3 linked regions of the Homo sapiens genome follow. The protein of the gene in region 2 purifies or fractionates together with the protein of the main gene of each other region. This does not show direct contact. Each region holds a gene or a part of one and is shown on either strand. Other genes may lie near its edges.

Region 1 (5,688 bases), about 120 Mb from region 2:
TTTCCCCTGTGGGAGGCCAGCATCTTCGCTTGCTCTCTTCTCCACCTGAAGACCAACTGTCATCTTACCAGCGAGCTCAGCTGCCAGGGTTTGTGGCTGGCGCCAGTCGTATTGTGGACATGGGCTTATGCTGAGCACAGACCAGGTGCTCCTCTGGGAGGAGTGAGACTCACGGGAACACCATCCTCCGCTTTCTCGTGAGGAGGGTGCCCCCTCCTTGAACTTACCTAAGGGACGATGGCCAGAGAATAGTGAAATGTATGCAGGTGCCACTGCTTAGTTCCTGAGAACTGTTTAGCTGTCATTTTTTTGCCCTTAAATATGCCTTTTTTTAAAGCACATTTCACTGATTTCATGTGAATCTAGGGTAAAAATGGAGTAGTAAGACCAGGCGGTGAGAGAGTGGGCTTCCGTCCACTTCAGGGCGGAAGCTGGTTAGTCCACGTGTCGGTCCTTCTGGGACCCTGCCACACAGGTGTCCCCACACCAAGGCTGGCAGAAGGAGGTTTAAATGACCACAGGCTTCGGATATCAGAAAGGCAGCTGGAAATGACACTGAGGAACAGATGGGCTATAACAGCTGCCCTTGCCACTTGGCTCTACATCCTCCTGGCTCCGAGCAGGCCCACCGTTGCTTTTCCTCCAGTAGATGGTGGGCCACGGGATAGAGCCAGAACAGAAGACTCGTCCCCCTCCACTCTTGTCTCTGGCAAATCCACCAGCTGGGAGGACCACCTTTCCTCCCTCCTGCCTCTGTGCGTGTGCGTGCACTCCATGTCGACAGCCACAGGTTTCTGCTGCAGCAGCCTCTTCCCCTGAATAGGACTGGGATTAAGCCCCAGCAGCTGGTGCACCCCACTCAGAGCACGGTTAAGGCAGCTGCCCAAACCTCTCCTCGGCTTTCTCAGGGCCTTTATTCGTTCAGGCTTTCTGGAAGTCAGCTGGCGGAGGTGAAGATGGCTTGGGCGCCCCTCCTGTGAGCTCTGTGTGAGTGGTGCTCTTTGTGATGTCAGGTGAGGAGCATTACAACTGCATCTCCGCCCTGCACAAGTCCATGCGGGGCTCAGACCAGAACGCCTCCCTCTACTGGCTGGCTCGCATGCTCGAGGGAGGAGAGGACCCACTCTACGTGGCACGGAGGCTTGTCAGGTTTGCCAGCGAGGACATAGGTGAGTGTGATGGGAGGGTCCCGGAGTCCTATGTCCATGAGGGTGGGGAAATGGCTAACAGTTACATCGTGGCTTTTTTTTTTTTTTTTTTTGCAGGGCGGGGTGGGCGGGGGTAGCAGGAAGAATGTCTCAGGGCTATGTGAGACTGGCAGGAGAAGATAAGACTTTATGCCTGAGCTCAGTCGTTTATTTCCTGGTGTATGTGCTTTTGAATGTTTATGTTCATAAAGTCACCATTTTCTGTTTCCTCTTCGGGAATGTTTTTACTAACATGAGTGGCTATTCAGAGTATTGCAATAGATGAGCTGCTTTTAAATTTGCTTTAAGTCAGGTGTTCAAGGTTTTCTTTGGACAGCTCCCAAGGTAGAAATGGAAGACTCTAGACACTATATGAAGAAAAAGATCAGGAAAGCTCTCCTCTTCTTTGGTCTTAGGGGATGTTTTGTTTTTAGTGTTTCCATCCTGGTGAATGTCTCCATAGCCTTCACTTCTTATGTTTGTTATACAGAGACTCATGTTTTTCTAGATGCAGAGTTTTTATCCACAAGGAAACAGTTCTTAACACCACACAGTAACCACTCTCAATATTTCTTGCATAAGTTCATGGGATCAGAGACTAGAGCTAAGTCAGGCTGTTTTGCTACATGGGATTGTTTTGGTCACCAAGTGTACAAGCAGTGGTGGTCTGTGGTCGCCTGCACATAGGCCAGGAGGACAGTGTGTGTCATGACTGAAACTCTCCTTTGTCTCTGTGTGTGGCAGGTCTGGCAGACCCGTCTGCGTTAACACAAGCGGTTGCTGCCTACCAAGGCTGTCATTTTATAGGCATGCCTGAATGTGAGGTAAAGTAATCAGCTCATTTCTTGCAAATCACTTCTTTTCTCTCTCGTGCTCTGTCCCTTTGTAGATTTGAATAAATGTCCCTCCTTCACCATTGGTGTATTGGACCCACTGAGTATGCTGCTTGGCTTTGGAATTCCAATTGTAGACTCTTAGACTCCTAGAGAGGGAAACCTTCTGTGTCAACGAGGTCATGTTTCAAACTGTTCTCGGGATTCCGGGGTTCAGAGCACATGCTCCATATGTTCCAGGGAGCAGAAAGGTTAAAGGAGCTGAACAGCAAAGCCTCTGCAAGTTCGCCCCCAGAGCAGCTTCATATTCATCTCTTTTATATATTGGGGGCTTAAGAAAAATTTAATGTAGTAAAAAGTCCTTCAGTTAAAAAAAAAAATGAAAACCACTCACCTGGTTTGCCTCTCGTTTCACCTCATGAGAATTTCTTCTGTCTGTCGTAGGTGGTTATCCAGACTGTAGGCGCAAAAGGGGGATAATAAAAGCATGTGGGGATCTTCTCAGAATTACCTAGAGCTGTGTATCAGAAGGGGCTCTGCAGAACAGAAGCTTGGCATCTTGCTAGTAAAATGTGTCCTCTGTGTCATTGGTAGGTGCTTCTGGCCCAGTGTGTGGTCTACTTTGCCAGAGCCCCAAAGTCCATTGAGGTGTACAGCGCCTACAACAACGTCAAAGCCTGCCTGAGGAACCACCAGGGGCCACTGCCCCCCGTGCCCCTGCACCTGAGGAACGCGCCCACTAGGCTGATGAAGGATTTGGGCTATGGCAAAGGCTACAAGTACAACCCCATGTACAGCGAGCCTGTGGATCAGGAGTACCTGCCTGAAGAGTTGAGGGGGGTAGATTTCTTCAAGCAGAGGAGGTGCTGACTCCTCAGGGCACGACAGCAGAAGGATGTTGCTTTTTTAAGGGAGGGCCAGAAAGAAAGTTAGTGGATTGCAAAGTTGGTTGCCTGGTGGAAGTTAGAACAGACCAACATTTTGTGCCAGAAATTTAAGAGTTCCATAGGTGGAGGCGCAGTTCTTTCGAATAAATGTGTAACTTTGAAATTGTGTTCATTTGCACTCGGTGCAGCGGTTATGCTTATGAAAATACCTGGCAGCTTTGTGCAATGAATTAATGTTATAAGGAATTATCTATTTTGTCATAGTATTTAAGTCATAATGTCATTTCAGAATTCAGTTCTGTAGGATTTTCTTTTCTTTAAAAAATGTATATTCTGGGTAGTTTTAATTGGTAAAAAAATGTAATTGTGATTTAATACTGCATAGTGTTTTGGGTATTTTTTTTATATGCAAAGGTCTTACGAGCCAATAAAACTATTTCAAAGTACTCTTCGATTCTGTCATGGTTTTCCTGCCTGGATGCTAGGTACCAGCGTTGTCACCATTGCATTTGGTGGGTGGATACTGGGAAGGAGAAATCACCCCAGATGGGAAGAGTGGGGAGCTTAAGTTAAGAAGTCAGTGTTATCTTGTTGAAAGTTAACTCTGATCTCTTTAAAGGAATACATAAAGGAATTCTTTAAATGGCTTGTGGAAGACTCCAGTAGTCCCATGCCCATTTTTTCCCACTTGTCCTGGTTTCTTCTTGCAGCTCCATATTTCTAAACAGTCGTTTTTCTTTTACTTTATGTGTGTCCTGAACACAAAATACGCCACTCCTTCTGCTCAGTTAAGAGTTATTTGTCCCTACTGCTACTTCCTCTCCCTCTCCTTAGTTGCATGTCGTGCATATGCCCACAAGGATGGCCCCTTCAGGTAGTCGGTTCTCCTCCTGCTGTTGCGTGATCCCTCCTGGGGTCCTCCTGCCATGTCTGGAAGGCTGCCGGCTGTTGGCCTGGGACGTCCTCTGCCTTTATTCTGAGTGAGATGCCCATTTTCTGGATGCTCCATCCCGCCTTACTGGTTTATTCCGCTATTTCAGTGCAACCCATCCTCTAGTAGTTTTATCAGGCTGGAGGGACTGTATGTTGCAGAGGCTTGGCCCGACTGGCCTCCCTCCTTCTGTCTGGAGTGGTTGCACTGCAGTGTGCAGTTGCCATCCCCAGAATCTCCCTTCATCATCACCCTGGAGCTTTCCTCTGCTTCTCCCTGCACCCCATCTGATGACAGGACTGACTGCTTTCTGGCACAGGTGGCATGTACCCTCTAGTAGCTTTATGGAGCAGGGGTGTGTGGAGGAAAAGTATTTTTAGACCTCAGGAGACTCAAAATGCTTTTATTGTACCTTCAGACGTGTCTGAGGGTTTGGCTAGTAATAAATTGTAGGTAAGAAATTACTTGTGCATTGTTTTACACTTTCCCACATTGTTGTCAAGTTTGAAGGCATCCTGATGTGTGTGGTCTTTTGTTTGTAACCTCTATCAACTTGTAGACTCTTCTGTCTTTGCTCCCCGTGTTTTAAAAGTCTGCACTGGGTACTTGTTGGGCCTTTCAATCTGGAAACTCCTTTCAGTTCTAGGGAAGTTTCTTTTTTTATTCAATAAATTTATTTATTTATGAGACCAACTCTTGCTCTTTTTCCCAGGCTGGAGGGCAATGATGCGATCTCGGCTCACTGCAACCTCCACCTCCCAGGTTCAAGCGATTCTCCTGCCTCAGCCTCCCAAGTAGTTGGGATTACAGGCGCACACCACCACACAAGGCTAATTTTTGTATTTTTAGTAGAGACGGGGGTTTCACCATGTTGGTCAGGCTGGTCTCGAACTCCTGACCTCGGGTGATCCACCCACCTCAGCCTCCCAAAGTGCTGGGATGACAGGCGTGAGCCACCGCGCCCGGCCTCAATAAATATTGAGTGCCTGTTTTATGCTGAGCATTCTTGTTGATGTTAAAACACATCAGTGAGCAGAAGAGACCAAAAATTCTGTGTTCTTAAAGCCTATGGTATGAAAAATAATATGTTAATATGCCAAATAGTGATAAGTGCTATGCTAAGGAGAAAATGAATGAAAGATTGAATATGGAAAGGGGAGGTATGGGTGCAGTTTTAGTAGAGTAGCCAAGGTGGATCTCACCAAGAAAGTGTTTGAGTCAAGACTTCAAGGAAGTGAATGTGCCTTTCAGACACCCGGGAAAGGATCATCCCAGGCAGAGGGAAAAGCAAGTGCAAAGGCGCCGAGGGAGGATGGAAGGCTGGGTGGGTTCAGCATCCAGTAAGGAGACCAGTCTAGCCGGAGGGGAGGAAAGAGTGGTAGAAGTCGAGGCCGAGGATCATGGAGCTTCAGATAAGGTGGGACCTTTTAGGTCATGGGAAGGACTTTGGCTTTTACTCAAGGTTTCCCTCAAAGAGTGTCATGATGAGACTTTGATGTTATAGGGATCCCTTGCCGCAGTGTTGGGACTAGACGGTAGGTAGGGTCAGGCTCATCTTTTCAGTCAAGTAGGTCAAGGCATGGCTCCCTGCGTTCTCAGCGCCAGGTGGGGAAAGAGGAAAGTCGTCATACATCACTCAGTATGTGCCTACCACTTTGATCTTCTGACTGAAATGGTACCCAAGCCCCTGGCTCTATCTGGGCCCCTCTGGTTCAGAGATCTTCCCCTGGCCTGGAGTAGGAGAGGGTGTCTGGAGACCCATCTTCCTCTTCCTTACCTGCTGCCACCTCCCAAGCCTCTGAGACGTCTGCCACGTTGATGCCTTGGCATTCCCCACTCGACTTGCCAGG
Region 2 (8,257 bases):
AATTACTTGGGAAGCATCTTTATTTGTTGTTGGTATCATTTTATACAGAACTCTAGAACACTGGGTCATACGGATTTAAAACGCATGGGAAATATTCTTTATATATTCTTGCCTAGTATCCTGAAGTTTGTCTACCCTTCTCAATTCCAAAAATCCATTCTTGTCAATGGTTAATATACTGTTGAGTTATATTTCAAAACCTGAGACCTCCTTAACAGTTTTCCACTTATACAGGACCATTAATTGGCCATTTTCTGTTGTATGATAAATTTTAAAGTGTTAGTTTCTCATTAGAAATTTGAGCATTCATTAGCCCAATGGAAGTTAATCTGACTCCCTTAACAAGTAGCAAACATTTTTAAAATGTGTGAAGCCAAGGGTCTGTTTTCAGAAGAACAGAAACATTACCCAATCAAAACTGTAAAAATACAAAATAGCATCAAACATATTTTTTAAAATAATTTTTTTCTAAATTCCCTGGGTCACTTTATTTATAATCAAATCTTGACATTCTACCTGCAAAGGCTTTTAAGTGTACTTGCTAAAGAATCATTACAACTTATGAATGAAGCTCCACATTGCAATGATGGAAGTATATTTTCCAAATATTAATAAACATTCCCTACCTAAGAAATTTCAGTAGGAGCTACTGTTGCCTATCAGATTTATGAGCATGAAAATGCCTTAAGCTCTATACCATCTATCTACTTGGTAAAGTGAAATATCCCCCTCTTTAGTTTAACATTCCAGTTGCTGAGTCTTGATAAAATGCCAGATGATACGGACTTTTTCCTGCATAAAAGTATGAAGGTAATCACTAGAGAATGAGAAAATTGAATAGGATTGTTCAAAACTAAGATGCAAAGTGAAGGTGGAGCTTGCAAGATATTTTCTTAGAGCTACCAAAATAACATTGCATATTTCCTTCCATTTTTAGTGGTAACTCAAAAATTAGCTTGAAATTTATCCTATTATAGGTAGTTTTTCATTAGAAAAAACCATTGTGTTAACTTCTGAAGTAATGTTAAATTACTTGAAATTGTCACATACAATACCTGCACTAGTAGATCCAATTCCTGTGGTCAGCACAGATCTTGGTGTAATCTTTGCTGCATATTTGAGGAACTGAGATTTCCCTGTGCCAGGATCCCCAACCAATAAAAGATGAGATTCTCCTAGGAAAAAGCAAATACATGAAGTTTTAAATTTCTATAAAAGGGTCCATTTGGAATGCCAACAAAATATTACATAGTGTTTTTACTGTGTACTTTTACATAGGGTCGTTTGAGAAAGGATTTAACTAGAAAATCTTCAGAAAGTTAACTGTCATAAACAGTCCTTAATTGATTACTCAATGTGACATAGAATCTAAATTCTATTAATAAATTATGTGCTATTTCCAGATGTTCAGGCCTATGTTTAACATTTTAAAAAATATCTGGGGCCAGGTGCGGTGGCTCACACTTGTAATCCCAGCATTTGGGAGGCCAAGGCAGGAGGGTCACTTGAGCCCGGAAATGTGAGACCAGCCTGGGCAAGACTCCATGTCTACAAAAACAAACAAAAAATTTTTGGCTTATAAAGTTTCTGATTTACTCTATTTTTAAATATCAAACTACTATGATTAAATCCTTGCATACAAGTCATATAAGTATTTTATTCTATTTTTATTTAAGCACTTAGAAGTATTAGGGATTTTACAAGTACTTTACAAATATCAAATTATGATTCTAACAGTTAAGTGAAGACCTTTTCATTTATGAAAATTTTAGTAACTTAGTGAAATATGTATCTTAAAATAAGTACTCATTTTGCAAATGTAACATAAATAACGTGCATATCCTATGGTACATATGATTTCACTGACCAAGTTTCTTCAGCAATTCTCAAGTGTTTCCTAAATACATTAATAGGAAACCCCTATTTAAGCTCAACATTTGGCAGAGTGCCTTGCAAAACAGTAGGTGATCAAAACATATAAGGACGCCTTATACTTACTATTCTATACTGTACTATATGGTTTTCGAGTCCCTACTAACAGCCTGATTTATAACAATGCCCTTTTAGTCTTTTGGTTTAATTTTTGGTTATTATGGCCCACGTACAGGGCCGTAATAACCCGTATGCCAGACTCTGGTTAAGTGTGTTAGCTGCAAAAGAGCTTTCTGCCATCTGGACATAATTATACACTTAAGAGTAATCTTTTCTTGAAGGTGTGACCTGCAGCAGCACCCCATGGCAGATGGCACATTTGCTATCTACCAGCAGAAGGAGAATCAGCAGGCAGATGACTGAAAGCAGCAGTCTAAGAGAAACACAGTGACAGCCACAGATGGAGAGACGCTGACTGGAGACATTAAAATACACTATTTCTAATCTTTTTCCTTTTGAAAACAGACCGGGGATCCAACAAAAAACACAGTAATAGAAACAAAGATTTTATTTTGTGGCATCCTTATAGGCTATAGCAAAAGTATATGCCATAGAAAAATGTAACTTCTTTCAGTCTTTCTGGAACTCTAGAAAGTAGCTTCTGATATACAGATGCTAGACTAAGTATAAGATATTCAGACAACTGTCAGTTTTATAAGATTACAATTGGAAAATAAAACCCAACGAGCAGTTTTTATTTGGGAAAGAAAAAGTTCTAGCTTCCATCCATGTGTCAATATTACTCAAAATTTCTAAATAGGTACTAACCTCTGACCCGTGTTCCTGTAGCATCAGTCCTTTGAATCCCACCAGCCAGCACCATGGCCACAGCAAGCTTTACTAGATACATTCCAAACACTTGAGGGCACAAGCTAGCCAATATTACATTCCTTCCTAGGAAAAGCAGAAAGATCAGAAATCAGCAATAATTTTCAAGAAACCCCAACTGAAATTTCCCTTCCTTTCCTATCTGACCATCCTCATTTAAATATACTCTACTATGTGAAGTGATCAGGAGGTCCAATTCCAAATGACCAACAGGATTAAAGGAGGAAATAACTTTGTTTTGGTTCAAAATGTCCTGTTTTTTTGAGACAGGGTCTCACTCTGTCACCTAGGCTGGAGTGCAGTGGCGTGATCATAGCTCATTGCAGCCTCAAACTCCTGGGCTCAAGCAATCCTTCTGCCTCAGCCTCCTGAGTAGTTGGGACAGCAGGTGTGCAGCACCACGCCCAGCTAATGTTTTTTTTCTTTTTTGGAGCAACGTGGTCTCACTATGTTGCCCAGGCTGGTCTCACTCCTGGGCTCAAGCAATCCTTTCATATCAGCCTCCCAAAGTGCTGGGATTACCACCCAGCACTCATGAGTGGTATGAGCCACCGTATGTACTTTCTATGTGACAATTTCAGTAAAATTACTCCACTGCCTAAATAAAAGGAAGGTATTCAATCTCAGAAATAATGAGTCAGATCATACAAGTCAGTAATCTTTAAATACAGAGGTAGCTGGAGCTCATGAAGCTGCTCCAAAGGTATAAGAAATAAGTAAAAAATCCACCCTCCAAGTCAATTCAGCATTTGCTCTGAGCAGTCTGGTAAATTCTGTTTTCTCTGGAACAAAGTTACAGGGGCATCAAGGCATTAAGAAGATCACTGCACACCACAACCCTAGCAGTGTAAGTATGAGATCTCGAATTCTTCTGATCATGTGCTTTAAATAAAAGAACATCACTGTTTGGGGTTCTGTTTTCAGAAATAACGCACCAAATCTGAGAATCTGCCTATCTCTTCCATGAATAAAGCAGGTATTTCATTCAGTCATTGGCCTAACCAACCTATGGAATTCCAACAAGCCATTCCTGAGCCTTTCCACGACTTATGGCCCTATACACAAAGGCTACTTTTTGTAATGAATCAACATTGATTCAGTGGCAACTAATCTATGATGATGTGGCCTGCGATGGCAGAAATGGTGAAGAAAGAAAATCTTTTAGTAAAAAAGGAACCAGAAGATTTAGTAAATCCAGGAAGTTCATTACTTGCTGAAGGAATCCCTCCCTGTTTGGAGTTAGAAAGCCTGGAGAAAAGGTCAGGAATCCAAGCAGATAAGACTTGACAGCAGGTAGGTAAATTGTGACCAGAATCTAGTGATTACATGTGGAAGGAAAGAAGAAACAGCCCCAACAAACAGGTTCAAGAGTAGGCAAATTGATCTGGGAATTACATAAGCCAAAACTTAGAGCCAATTTTACTGAGTAACATGCTGATGGGAAGCATATCCCTGTGGTAAGAGGACAGGCTCTGGTGTCATGTTTGGATTCAAATCCCAGTGCTATTAATTACCAACTGTCTGACCTTAGGCAAGTTTCTTAACCTCTGCCTCCATTTCTTGTCTGCAAAATGGAGATTATAATGGTATCAAGACAGAATTGTTGAGAATCAAGGGAGTTAGTAAGTATACAACACATTAAATAATAACTGGCATATAGTGGGAACTACTTAACTGTAACTGTTAGCTATTTTATTACCTGTATTATTTGTGCATCTTTCTGATCTAAAGATTTCCTCACACTGTGGTCAACACAAAAGACTACAAAGGTAGGACTGGGGTCCCAGAGAGAAGCAAAAAGGAAGGGCCAAATGTGTTGTCTAAGTTGAAAAGCTTGATTCCTTAGATCATGGCAGCAGAAGATCTCATGGCTATATCATGGAAGAAAATGCATTAGCACCAGTACTACCCCCATCCTCACCTCCCTCCCAAATTTCTAGTTCTAGACCATGTCAATAGTGTGGCAAAGGCCTAGTTATCTACTCTTGTGTGGCCCTCAGTTATCTCAATGAAGAGAACTTAGTAGGCCCTTAGTAATCTCAGAATTAAGATAAGTCAGTGACCCCCAAAGAGGGTTCAGATGGCCCAAAACACTCCAACCCTTACATCTGGGTTTCTAACATCTAAGCACCAGGGTCAAGGAATCCCTCAGGTGACAGCAGATCAGAATAAGGCCCCTAGGTTCATCCTAGCCAGTACCCACAGGATCAGGTCTTAAGCAAGTCAACCTCCAAGTGCTGATCAGTGAAGCATTCTCCAGCTTTAGACCAGCAAAATGAAGATGTTCTGTTGGATACAGCTTCCCAACTTCACCTCTCCTCCCTCCAACACACTCACCAACACTCTGAAATGGAGGAATACCAGTACACTGGTGCTGGTCCATAGGAAACTGAGAATCCATTCATACTAACAAGAGAAACACTGCCTTATTTTCTTGCTATCTTCCTACTTATATTTCTCACAAGACTATTATATTTACTTCTGCCTTTTATCCAATAAATGGCTCATGCAACAGTAGCCTAATTAAAACAAGACAGATTCTTTAATTGCCAGCACAAAGCACGTCTGAAGATCTAGTTAGAGTACCATATGATGGCCTTCCCTTCATTGTTAAGAGGTAGAACTGAGCTGTGACACTGTAATAAATAAATAAATAACAGTGGTCCAAGGAAGAGTTACAAATTTTTATAAGGATAGAATCCTAAGAAACCATTTTCAGGCTGTTCAGGCTGGGCACAGTGTAATCTCAGCACTTTGGGAGACGGAAGTGTGAGGATCGCTTGAGCCTAGGAGTTCAAGACCAGCCTGGGAAACATAGCATAGTGAGAACCCTGTCTACTTTAAAAAAAAAAAAAGAAACCATTTTAATTTTAAAAATCATTTAAAAATGTATGATTCTTAAAGTGCCTGCTTCATAAATCTATAATGTAGAGAACTTTTGCTTCTTTCAATACAGATCAGAAAAAAGAAAGATCAGGAACTACTAATGTGCTATACATTTACACACACACACAAAAAAAAAAGAAAAAAGAAAAAATCCCATAAAATAAAACTATCCCTATTTAGGGAAATGGAAGCATTATTATTATTATTATTATTATTATTATTATTATTATTATTATGAGACAGAGTCTCACTCTGTCGCCCAGGCTGGTCTGCAGTGGCGCGATCTTGGCTCATTGCAACCTCTGCCTCCCGGGCTCAAGTGATTCTCCTGTCTCACCCTCACAAGTTGCTGGGACTACAGGTGCACGCCACCACACCTGGCTAATTTTTGTATTTTTAATAGAGACAACGCCACCACACCTGGCTAATTTTTGTATTTTTAATAGAGACAGGGTTTCACCATGTTGGCCAGGCTGGTTTCAAACTCCTGACCTCAAGTGACCCACCCACCTTGGCCTCTCCAAGTGCTGGGATTACAGGCGTGAGCCACCATGCCCAGCTAGAAGCCTTATTTTTTAAAATAATATCTATCTAATTTAGCATGTGATTTAAGAATAAAGTAATCAATATCTCTTAGATTTGAGGGGAGTGTTATTAGAAACGTCTATTACTGGCTTCAGTTTATTTTTCTCAAAAGATGTCTCCATGGAGAAATGAAAACAGGCACTTGAAGATTTAATTGGTGCTTTACACACTTGAGATTTTTTAATAAAATACACTACAAACCCAATGGCTGTGATGTTTTATTCTATGTAATTACACCTGAATGTCACAGTCAAAATTTTTGCTTGTGATGACAAAGCTTATCGTCTGCATCTTCTCTCATCTTTTTCCTAGTTATTCCCTGTTTTAAAATCTTCAGCCAAAATAGTGTAGAGTTAGATCTTTATTATTGAAAATACATCAAAGAAAAACAATGGCTTTAATAGGATGAGGGTTCATAAAAGGATGAGTTTTGCCTTTTTAAAGAACTATATTTTTAATTGATATGATAGGAAACTCTGAAATTGTTTTGGCAGTGTATAAGGTGTTTAAAATAATAGTTAGAAATGAAATATCTCCAGGCAGGTTGCTAAATAGAAGAGTATGGCAGAAAAAGGCTTCAAAGGGAGACTATAGCTAGAGGTAATGACTAATCCTACCCTTTAAACTCAGTCATTGAGTTATGCGGCATATAAGACTGTCAAATCACAGACATCATATTTAACCACTGAATGTAATACCATTAATAATAATCAGTTTTAGCCCTTAAACACAAACCTGCAAAGGGATCGCTCTTATAGTATTCCCAAAAATCTTCGAATTCCTTTTGGACCTCCTCATCCATGATGATCCCTGAGGACTGCTCATTATTTACTTGGATGTAATTTGCTTTCAGGACTATCTCCACTTCACAGCGCACATCTTGCTGAAAGGGCTTCCACCGTTGCATTACAATCCCGTAAATAGTGAGGTCATCACCTAGGAAAAAGCATCAAGTGAGTCCAGCAGTAGCATCCTGCATGCTGAGCACAGACTCAAAATGACAAAGGACCAGAAATTAGAAATAAACCACTCCCTTACTAGAGTTTACAATATGTACACTCATCCAGAAAACAATTCAGGGGCAGAATAGCACCCCAGATTCTTGACTGTTGTCCCCCACAGTCATGTATCTGTAAAGTGAAAAGCTGAAGTCAGTATTTCCTATTTTTCATAACCTGCTACATGATAATCCTACAAAATTATTACTTTTCACTGGGAAAATAGTTTACTGGATGATTCATTCATCACAGTTACATTGGATGAAATGTTCATCCTCTGAGTCTCTAACCATTTAGCTCTCATTTAGAGAAGAGATGTGGGAACTGCAGCCAGAAGGTTAAACTATAATTTGGAGTCAGGAAAAGAGATAACCTTGTGATGACTGGCAGGTAGTTTGGGTTTCTTACATGTTCATTTTTACTTAACTCATTTGCTAATATTTTACTCACTGCCCCCCCACATCTTTTTTAGTGAACCAAAGAAACAATGAACTAAGAAATGAATAAATGCCTGTTATGCTTCAAAGTTCCTTCCCACAAAATATAAAAGCACAAGATACAATCCTGCTTGTTCCTTGCTGATGGTTCTCTCCTACCTGAGGAAACCCTCCCACCATTCCTGGTAGGCAGAAGCAACTTTTATAGATTTTCCTAAGAGGCCCTGGGTAGTTTATAGGCACACTCGCCAAACACTGCCATCTGTACTTGTTACGACATACAATGCAATGCATCAGTTAACAAGTATATACAAATGTTTGGCCTTCCATATTTTGGTACTGGAGAAAGTGGGCCAAAAACAAACATGAAAAAAATCATAATCCTGGTCCCCCCAAATTTTAATCTTGTTGAACACAGGGTGTTGGATGTGCCCCAACCCCAATTCTGGTATTTATATTTTGCATAATAAACACTGTCTCAGAACTAACAGGCAATTCTTCATTTCCAAGCCTTTGTGCCAATTATATGATATGTGCTGATGAAAAATGCCTTTCACTCTCTAAATTTCAATGAGTAATCTGCATAGCTTT
Region 3 (7,628 bases), on a different chromosome or scaffold from region 2:
TCATCCGGCAGCTTGATGGCAAGTCGCTTGTAGGTGTTCAGGTTGCCCGCAAAGCTCCTAAAGGAAAAGGGTGTCGTTGGACCGGAGTCGAGAATACCGGACACAACTCAGGGCTCATGTGGAGAAAAGGTGGCTTATCTGCCAGCACTCAATGTGTCTGCCCGACTATCTGGGCAGAAGGAGGAGGCCCCAGGGTTCCATGTGCATGGCAGAGCCCTTAGCCGCGACCCGCGGTGCTGTCCGTGTCTGGTGGAAATGGACTAAGAGAAAAGGGCACGCTTCTACACTTCATAACTTTCTCTTGCAAGACATGCGTGCGGTGGCTCAAGCCTGTAATCCCAGCACTTTGGGAGGCTGAGGCGGGTGAATCATTTGAGGTCAGGAATTTGAGACCAGCCTGGCCAACATGTTGAAACCCCGTCTGTACTAAAAATACAAAAATTAGCTGGATGTGGTGACATGCACTGGTACGAGCTGGTAGTCGCAGCTACTTGGGAGGCTGAGACATGAGAATTGCTTGAACATGGGAGGCAGAGATTGCAGGGAGCTGAGATGGCACCACTGCACTTTAGCCTAGGCAACAGAAGGAGACTCCTTTTTTTGTTTTGGTTTGTTGTTAAAGGGCCACAAGTCACCTTGTGCCTTAATCTCATTAGCTCCTAAACAACCATCACCTTACCAAAAAGGACCAATGGCAAATTTAGAAAATGATTTCTCTCTAACCAGTCACCAGGGCCTGCTACTGCAAGAGCGGTGCTGTGAGTACTGCCTGACTTTCTGATTTTTCACAGTGACATGGAATAAGCACAACCCCTAAGCACGTTTGCAGTGGCTGGGCCTGAGGGGTGTGTGTTCCTGACAGGGCAGAGCTTTCTCCAAAGCACCTCACCTCCCTCGGAGTCGAACCGCATCTTGAAATCTCCTCTCGTCCATCGCCTTCTGCACATCCTGAGTCTTTTAAAACAATGATGAAAAGAAGAAAGAATGTGTCAGGACCTGGTGCATCATGGATGGGGTAGGTAGAGACTGGCTCGGTCCTTCCCACCAGCCCCCTCCAGTCTGACCCGGGCAGCCAGCAGCCCCAGGGTTAATGGTCTAGACGACCGGCCGCCAAGTGTGTCCTAATGCTGGTTGGCAGCCAGCCCCACACGGCCCGGCTGTGAGGTCAGAGCCCTGGGACTGCTTAGCTCAGGAGGCTTCTGAGGAAAAAGAGAAGGTGTCACCTGCTGTTTGTGGACACAACACTGTGAAGATTTAACTCCAAGAGAACAAAGCCAGAGGAAATGAAATCTCTCAGGCATGGTTCTAAGGAATTCTCAATTTGATTATGGTGGGGAAAAACAAAACAGAACACACCAGCTCACTGGGGGATGTGGGATGGGAGCGAGGTCACAGCGGGCGGGGGAGCAGAGGGGCCCGGATGGAGGCCCTGGGACACGGGGCTGGGACTGATGCACGCCAGGCAGCCCTGGGCAACGTCAGGATCTTGGTCAAGTTCTTTCTCGCTCTGAACTTCAATTTCCTCATCTGTAAGATGAGAAAAATACTCCTACTTCCAGCTATCTCTAAGGTTATTCAAGCATGTCAGACCCTCAGGAAGACGCCTGACAAACAGCAGGTGCACAGTAGTGGTCCCTCAGCTTTAAAAACAAAGCCACACAAGGGTGGTTTCAAGGTCAGGGCAAGTGACACCTACCACGGTCGTCTCTAGACAAGCAGAGACATGAGACACAGGCTCAAAATACACGTACCGCATGTCGTTCAGTGCTCTGAGCCTTTTAAGCCTACTGCCTCTCACATGCACACAGGCACACACTAACGTGCAGACACACACTACCTCACACTCCAACATACACACATATGCACATAAGCATACCTGCACACACAAACATGCAGACACACGCTACCTCACACTCATGCCAACATGCACACATCTGCATAGAAACATACCTGCACACACACACAAACATGCAGGCACATACTACCTCTCACAAACATACACACACATCCATATAAACACATGCACACACAGACATGCACACACTATCTCAAACATGCTCACACATGCATATAAGCATACATGCACACACATGCAGATGCATTACCTCACACACATATATACACATGCATATAAACATACATGCACACACTAACATGCAGAAACATACTACCTCACACTCAAATGTACACATGCATATACACACATGCACACACACTAACATGCACACACACTACCTCACAAAAACATGCACACACGTACAAACATGCATGCACACAAACATGCACACACATACATGCAGACATACTACCACAAACATGCATACTCATGCATATAAACATACACATACATGCAGACCCAAACTACCTCACAAACATGCACACACATGCATAAATATATGCATAAACCTGCATGTATATGCATATACAGAGATACACATGCACACACATATACATACATACACACAGAGACACAAGCCTGCGCACACACTCACACACATACACACAAATACTATTTTCTCCCTTGGGCTTTTGGAAATTATGTTTACAAGGTGACTTTCAACAAGTCCCTGACTTGATTGCTTCACGACTTCTTTGTGTGTGTTAAGAGGCAACAAAACAGGAGTCACGAATCATGAATGAACTCTGAAAAATAAAACAACAGCTGGGCGTGGTGGCTCATGCCTGTAATCCCAGCACTTTGGGAGGCCGAGGTGGATGGATCACAAGGTCAGGAGATCCAGACCATCCTGGCTAACACGGTGAAACCCCACCTCTACTAAAAATACAAAAAAAAAAAAAAAAAAAAAAAATTAGCCAGGCGTGGTGGTGGGCACCTGTAGTCCCAGCTACTCGGAAGGCTGAGGCAGGAGAATGGCGTGAACCCAGGAGGCGGAGCTTGCAGTGAGCCAAGATCACGCCACTGCACTCTAGCCTGGGCAACAGTGAGACTCCGTCTCTAAATAAATAAATTAATTAATTAAATAACTTCAAATGCAGCTAACTCCACAGCCACCTCCACTACTGAACCAATGCCTGAAAAGCTGGAACTGCTTTTCCCTTTGTTCATTTGCAGGCAGACAGTTCCCTGGCCCAAGAAGGGTGGGTGTATCTTCGGGTGACCAGAGCTTTCCCTGTGTCCCATCACAGACCTGAATGTCCTTGGGGATAGGAGGACAGGAAATGGCTGAAACTGGAGAAGTTTGGGAAGGTCCCACCTTCCCCTACAAAATACCACCCTGTAGATCTCTCTCACGCCCGCCTCCCTGCCTCCCTGCCCCCTCTGCCCCATGGGTCTCTCTCACGCCCGCCTCCCTGCAGTCTGTCCACGGATCTCTCTCTCTCGGCTGCCTCCCTGCACTCTGTCCTTCTGCAGCACCTGGTGCACTGGGGCCACCTGGATCCTCGACTGTTGAGGATCCCGATGCTCTAGACCCCCACTCAGGGGAGGTTACGACTATGTGCCACACAGATGGATGGTAACTTAGAAAACCAAAGAGCGAAGACGGCGCAGGCTCTGCAGGTGTGGGAGAGAACATAAGCCTTCTCCCTCCCCACGGGCAGCTCACCTCCTTCTCAGAAAGGCCGTGTAATGCATCGTGCACCGACGAGACACCCAAGGTGCCCAGGCTGGCCTGACAAGCAGCTTCTGTCCCAGCCGTCTCCGCCCTGCCCTTGGCCATGGGCTGCCCACTCACCATCTGCACGCACTCCATCAGCGGCAGGCGCACGGCGTGGTTCCCGTTCAGTGACACGACGCAAGCTGGGGTGTCCGGGGTGGCCTCTAGCAAGGCGATGACTGCCTCCACTCCCATGCGGCTGGCCTGGAAACCAGGTCCATGTGGGTCAGGGGCAGCCTCCCGTCCTGCCCTGTCCCTGTCACCTCCTATCTTTCCATGACGTCCAATGACCTCAGTCAGGTGCTCACAGCCCCTCCCGCTTCCAGCCCAACTCTTTAGAGCAAAGCGATTTCCACTCCTTTAGAACTGGCAAGACGGGAACAGAGAGGAGGTCAGGGCACATGGAGAGCAGGAGTGTTAAGAACTGAGGGTTTGTACTTGGGATTCCTGCTGCCCTGAGTCAGTTTCCAGAAACTCACTAGAAACACAGCCTTTCTGCCCTGGGATTGTGCCCTCTGGGGTCCACGTCGTGCCAACACCAAGCACTGCCTTCCCACATTAGGGAGCTCTCCCCGCATCTGAATGGCTGCAGGCCTAGAGACTGGTCTACACCAAAGGTCTCAAGGATCGTTAAGATGAGGGCCGGGCCGCGGGCATCTCTCGGGGAGCACCTTGCCAGCCTCTGTGGCCGGCTGGTGCCTGTGCCTCTCCAGAAACGCTTCCTCCTAGAGACCTTGTGAAGATGCCCAACCCTTCCCAACTCACCAAGATCCTGTCGAATGCCGAAGGGGTCCCTCCTCTCTGCACGTGCCCGAGGATGGTCACACGTGTGTCATAGCCCAGCTGCGTGACGACAAGCTGCAAGGAAACATCTCGTTAGGATGCGGAACTGTGATGCGGACACAGCAGCCCAGATCTGGAAGGAGGTACTGGGCACTGGAAAAGGTTTTTCGCTCTTTCTTCAGATCTAAATGGGAAAAGTTATTTCTAAATTTTGTTTCCTAGCAGAACGTTTAGTGTATATAACAGGCAGCTGAAAATTGGTTTTAAAAATAATACTGTTGTTACCAGACAAGATCTTGGCTCGCACCTAGAAAATGAATACAAGTAATATGTTCGTTGCTTTAAAAAAGAAAAATAAAAAAGTAACGTTTCAGTAGCTTGCATTTAAACTATTACTTATATTTTACAAAAAATGTAAACATCTTCCTTGAACCAGCTTTAATTTGTTCAGCTGTGATTTGAACAGCACAAGCCAGCCCAATCAAGGCGTTCCCCTCGCCCCAGCCCATGGGCACACCGGCCCGGTGATCTGGAGAGGCCACTGACTGTCTCTGGAACTCAGCTTATTCCTCTGTAAGGACAGTGGGGCTGGGCTACGTAAATTCCTTGGTTCCTTCTCGGTCCATTGTCCTATAATTTAATTACAGTTAAGCGGGAAATAAAATCTTTGCCTGGACTTTATGGATGACCACTTATAAATATTGGCAGATGTCTTTCCCAGGTGTCCATCACTGTTTTCATATCCAGAGATATGCTTTGCTCCTTAACTGACCATAACAAAGCACAATAAAGAAGCCGACTTGCAAAGCCAGGTGGGGACGTCTTCTGCCCCGTGGCTGCTGGAGCCACAGCCCATCCCCAGCCCCGGCAGCCTGCAGCCCCGTCTACAGCAGGGGCACAGCCCATGGTATCAGAGTCCTCTCCAGACAGGCAGGCACTGGCCTGAGCAAGTCCCAGGGCACGAAGCCTGCCAAAGCCTGCCAAAGCCTGTTCCCAGGCAGGGCCACGAGGACACAGTGGCTTTGTAAGAATGTGCTCAGCTGATGCTCTGGGTTATGGGAGGGCACAGGGAATAGCAAGACGCCGCCTTTTCCCACTGTGGCAAACAGAAGCCCGGGTCGGCTGCCAAGTGGTCAGTCCTCATTCTCAGAGCAGCTCATGTTTAAGAGCCGGAACATTCTAATCCAAAGAACACGCGTGGCCACTCGAGCTGACCCCCTCTGTCTGCTGGGGAGTCCCGGAACCTCTACGGGCTCGGCAAGAGGTGACGTAAGCGGAATGGGCTCCCAGGAGCGGGAGCTGCGTGTTTCCCCTGCCGTCCAACTTCTGAGTCATTATGAAAATGTTTTAAATATCAAGGATAAAAAGTTAATAATTCAATGTTCTAAACCAAGCCTGCCCATGACGCTAGCCTCCCCTGCTTCCAGGCAGAAACCGAGAGAAAGTGAGCAGCTACACACACTCACCTCTTTGATTTTCTCAGAGGTGATGGGTTTATTTTGGGTATCAATTGCTCCTTCAGCCACAATAATAATATTCAGCCTTTTTTTCCGGGCACGGTTCTGTGGAGACAGAAAATTAAAGCTCTCAAATTCCTAATCCTGTTCTTAGCAACAAATGCAACAAAACCACAGAAGTCTGTCTCAAACTGAACTGGCCTCTTTCTGGGCAGGAATCTTTGCCTAACTTCCTAAGAGCTGCTTCCCAATGACATCAGAAGGTGGTGAAAGGTGTGCTGGGTGACAGCAGGGAGGGACAGGGGTGAGAGGAGGGGCAGGGGCGAGGAGAGGGGCAGGGGTGAAGGGGCAGGGGCAGGGTGAGGAGAGGGGCAGGGGTGAAGGGGCAGTGCAGGGGAGAGGAGAGGGGCAGGGGCGAAGGGGCAGGGGCGAGGAGGGGGCAGGGGTGAAGGGGCAGGGCAGGGGCGAGGAGAGGGGCAGGGGTGAAGGGGCAGGGGCGAGGAGAGGGGCAGGGGTGAAGGGGCAGGGGCGAGGAGAGGGGCAGGGGTGAAGGGGCAGGGGCGAGGAGAGGGGCAGGGGTGAAGGGGCAGGGGCAGGGGTGAGGAGAGGGGCAGGGGTGAGGACAGGGGTAGGGGTGAGGACAGGGGCAGGGGTGAGGAGAGGGGCAGGGGTGAGGAGAGGGGCAGGGGTGAAGGGGCAGTGGCAGGGGTGAGGAGAGGGGCAGGGGTGAAGGAGCAGGGCGGCTGTGGCTCACTGGAAGAGAGCTCTTTGGGACTGGGAGCTCACATCACCACCGCAGATAGAAATGTGGCCCCCAGTCAGCCCCAGGTGGAGGGTGCTGGTGTGATTGACAGGGGTTCCCATGGGGAAGGACACACAGGTGGACGCCCCACAGGCGCCCCGTGCACGCCATGCTTTCTGCCTCCCATGGGGAAGGACACACAGGTGGACGCCCCACAGGCGCCCCGTGCACGCCATGCTTTCTGCCTCCCATGGGGAAGGACACACAGGTGGACGCCCCACAGGCGCCCCGTGCACGCCATGCTTTCTGCCTCCCATGGGGAAGGACACACAGGTGGACGCCCCACAGGCGCCCCGTGCACGCCATGCTTTCTGCCTCCCTCCAGAGTTTCCTGCCATCTCCCTGTGAACCACTCCTCCCCGGCCCTCCCAGGGGAGGCCCCGAAGCCTGGCCACTGGGATGAGGTTGTATTGCACACAGGCTCCAGCAGCAGAGAGTCGGGAGAGAGAAAACGGCGTGAGCGGACACAGGGCCCAGACAGTGGGTTTCTGGCAGCTGCAGCTGCACCCGAAAGGCCTCACACTGCTGGGCCACCGTGGCTGCTGTCCCCGTCGTCCTTCCTATGCTCACGGCAGTCACGTGAGCCTAAAGAGGTCATGAAAGGAACATAGCGACCACTCCATGATGTGGATTAACTCATCCTCAATGGACTCGCTTTCTATTAAGCCCCAAATTAAAGACCCACCCATAGAAAATGATAGGGGTGGCTGTGTGGAGCCTGGAGCCAACAGTGCCTGAAGTCTGCCTGCCGGAGTTAGGCACGCATGGGGCATTCTAACCAGGCTCACTCTGTCTCAGCCTCAGGTCTTAAATGAAACCTCTTCTGCCTTGAGTCTCAGCCTTCATAGAGGAAAACATGCCCCACGCTCACAGTCCATAGAGTGAAATACAAAGTGTGACAAACTGGAGACAGAGAAATTTTTTCACTTGCTTAAAATGCCGTCCCACTTGGGATCCTGATTAAAGCAA

Evidence for each region. Proteins that work in one complex are often made in the same cells at the same time.
Region 1: the proteins of MCM9 (region 2) and WRNIP1 purify together in Homo sapiens (affinity purification with mass spectrometry; 2 studies listed by BioGRID and IntAct, with this or other methods). This does not show direct contact.
Region 3: the proteins of MCM9 (region 2) and PFKP purify together in Homo sapiens (affinity purification with mass spectrometry; 2 studies listed by BioGRID and IntAct, with this or other methods). This does not show direct contact.

Annotation. Positions count from the first base shown.
Region 1 is NC_000006.12:2,782,393-2,788,080, forward strand, and holds the end of WRNIP1 (ATPase WRNIP1), read left to right. Parts: intron 1-1,013; coding exon 1,014-1,169; intron 1,170-1,931; coding exon 1,932-2,011; intron 2,012-2,614; coding exon 2,615-2,890; 3' UTR 2,891-4,560; downstream 4,561-5,688. UniProt on the Homo sapiens protein: Functions as a modulator of initiation or reinitiation events during DNA polymerase delta-mediated DNA synthesis. In the presence of ATP, stimulation of DNA polymerase delta-mediated DNA synthesis is decreased.
Region 2 is NC_000006.12:118,910,595-118,918,851, forward strand, and holds part of MCM9 (DNA helicase MCM9), read right to left. Parts: intron 7,362-8,257; exon of another isoform or gene 7,270-7,361; intron 7,168-7,269; coding exon 6,967-7,167; coding exon of another isoform or gene 6,932-6,966; exon of another isoform or gene 6,575-6,931; intron 2,827-6,574; coding exon 2,701-2,826; intron 1,176-2,700; coding exon 1,056-1,175; coding exon of another isoform or gene 1,030-1,055; exon of another isoform or gene 3-1,029; intron 1-2. UniProt on the Homo sapiens protein: Component of the MCM8-MCM9 complex, a complex involved in the repair of double-stranded DNA breaks (DBSs) and DNA interstrand cross-links (ICLs) by homologous recombination (HR).
Region 3 is NC_000010.11:3,105,548-3,113,175, reverse strand, and holds part of PFKP (ATP-dependent 6-phosphofructokinase, platelet type), read right to left. Parts: intron 5,963-7,628; coding exon 5,867-5,962; intron 4,476-5,866; coding exon 4,383-4,475; intron 3,822-4,382; coding exon 3,696-3,821; intron 955-3,695; coding exon 890-954; intron 58-889; coding exon 1-57. UniProt on the Homo sapiens protein: Catalyzes the phosphorylation of D-fructose 6-phosphate to fructose 1,6-bisphosphate by ATP, the first committing step of glycolysis.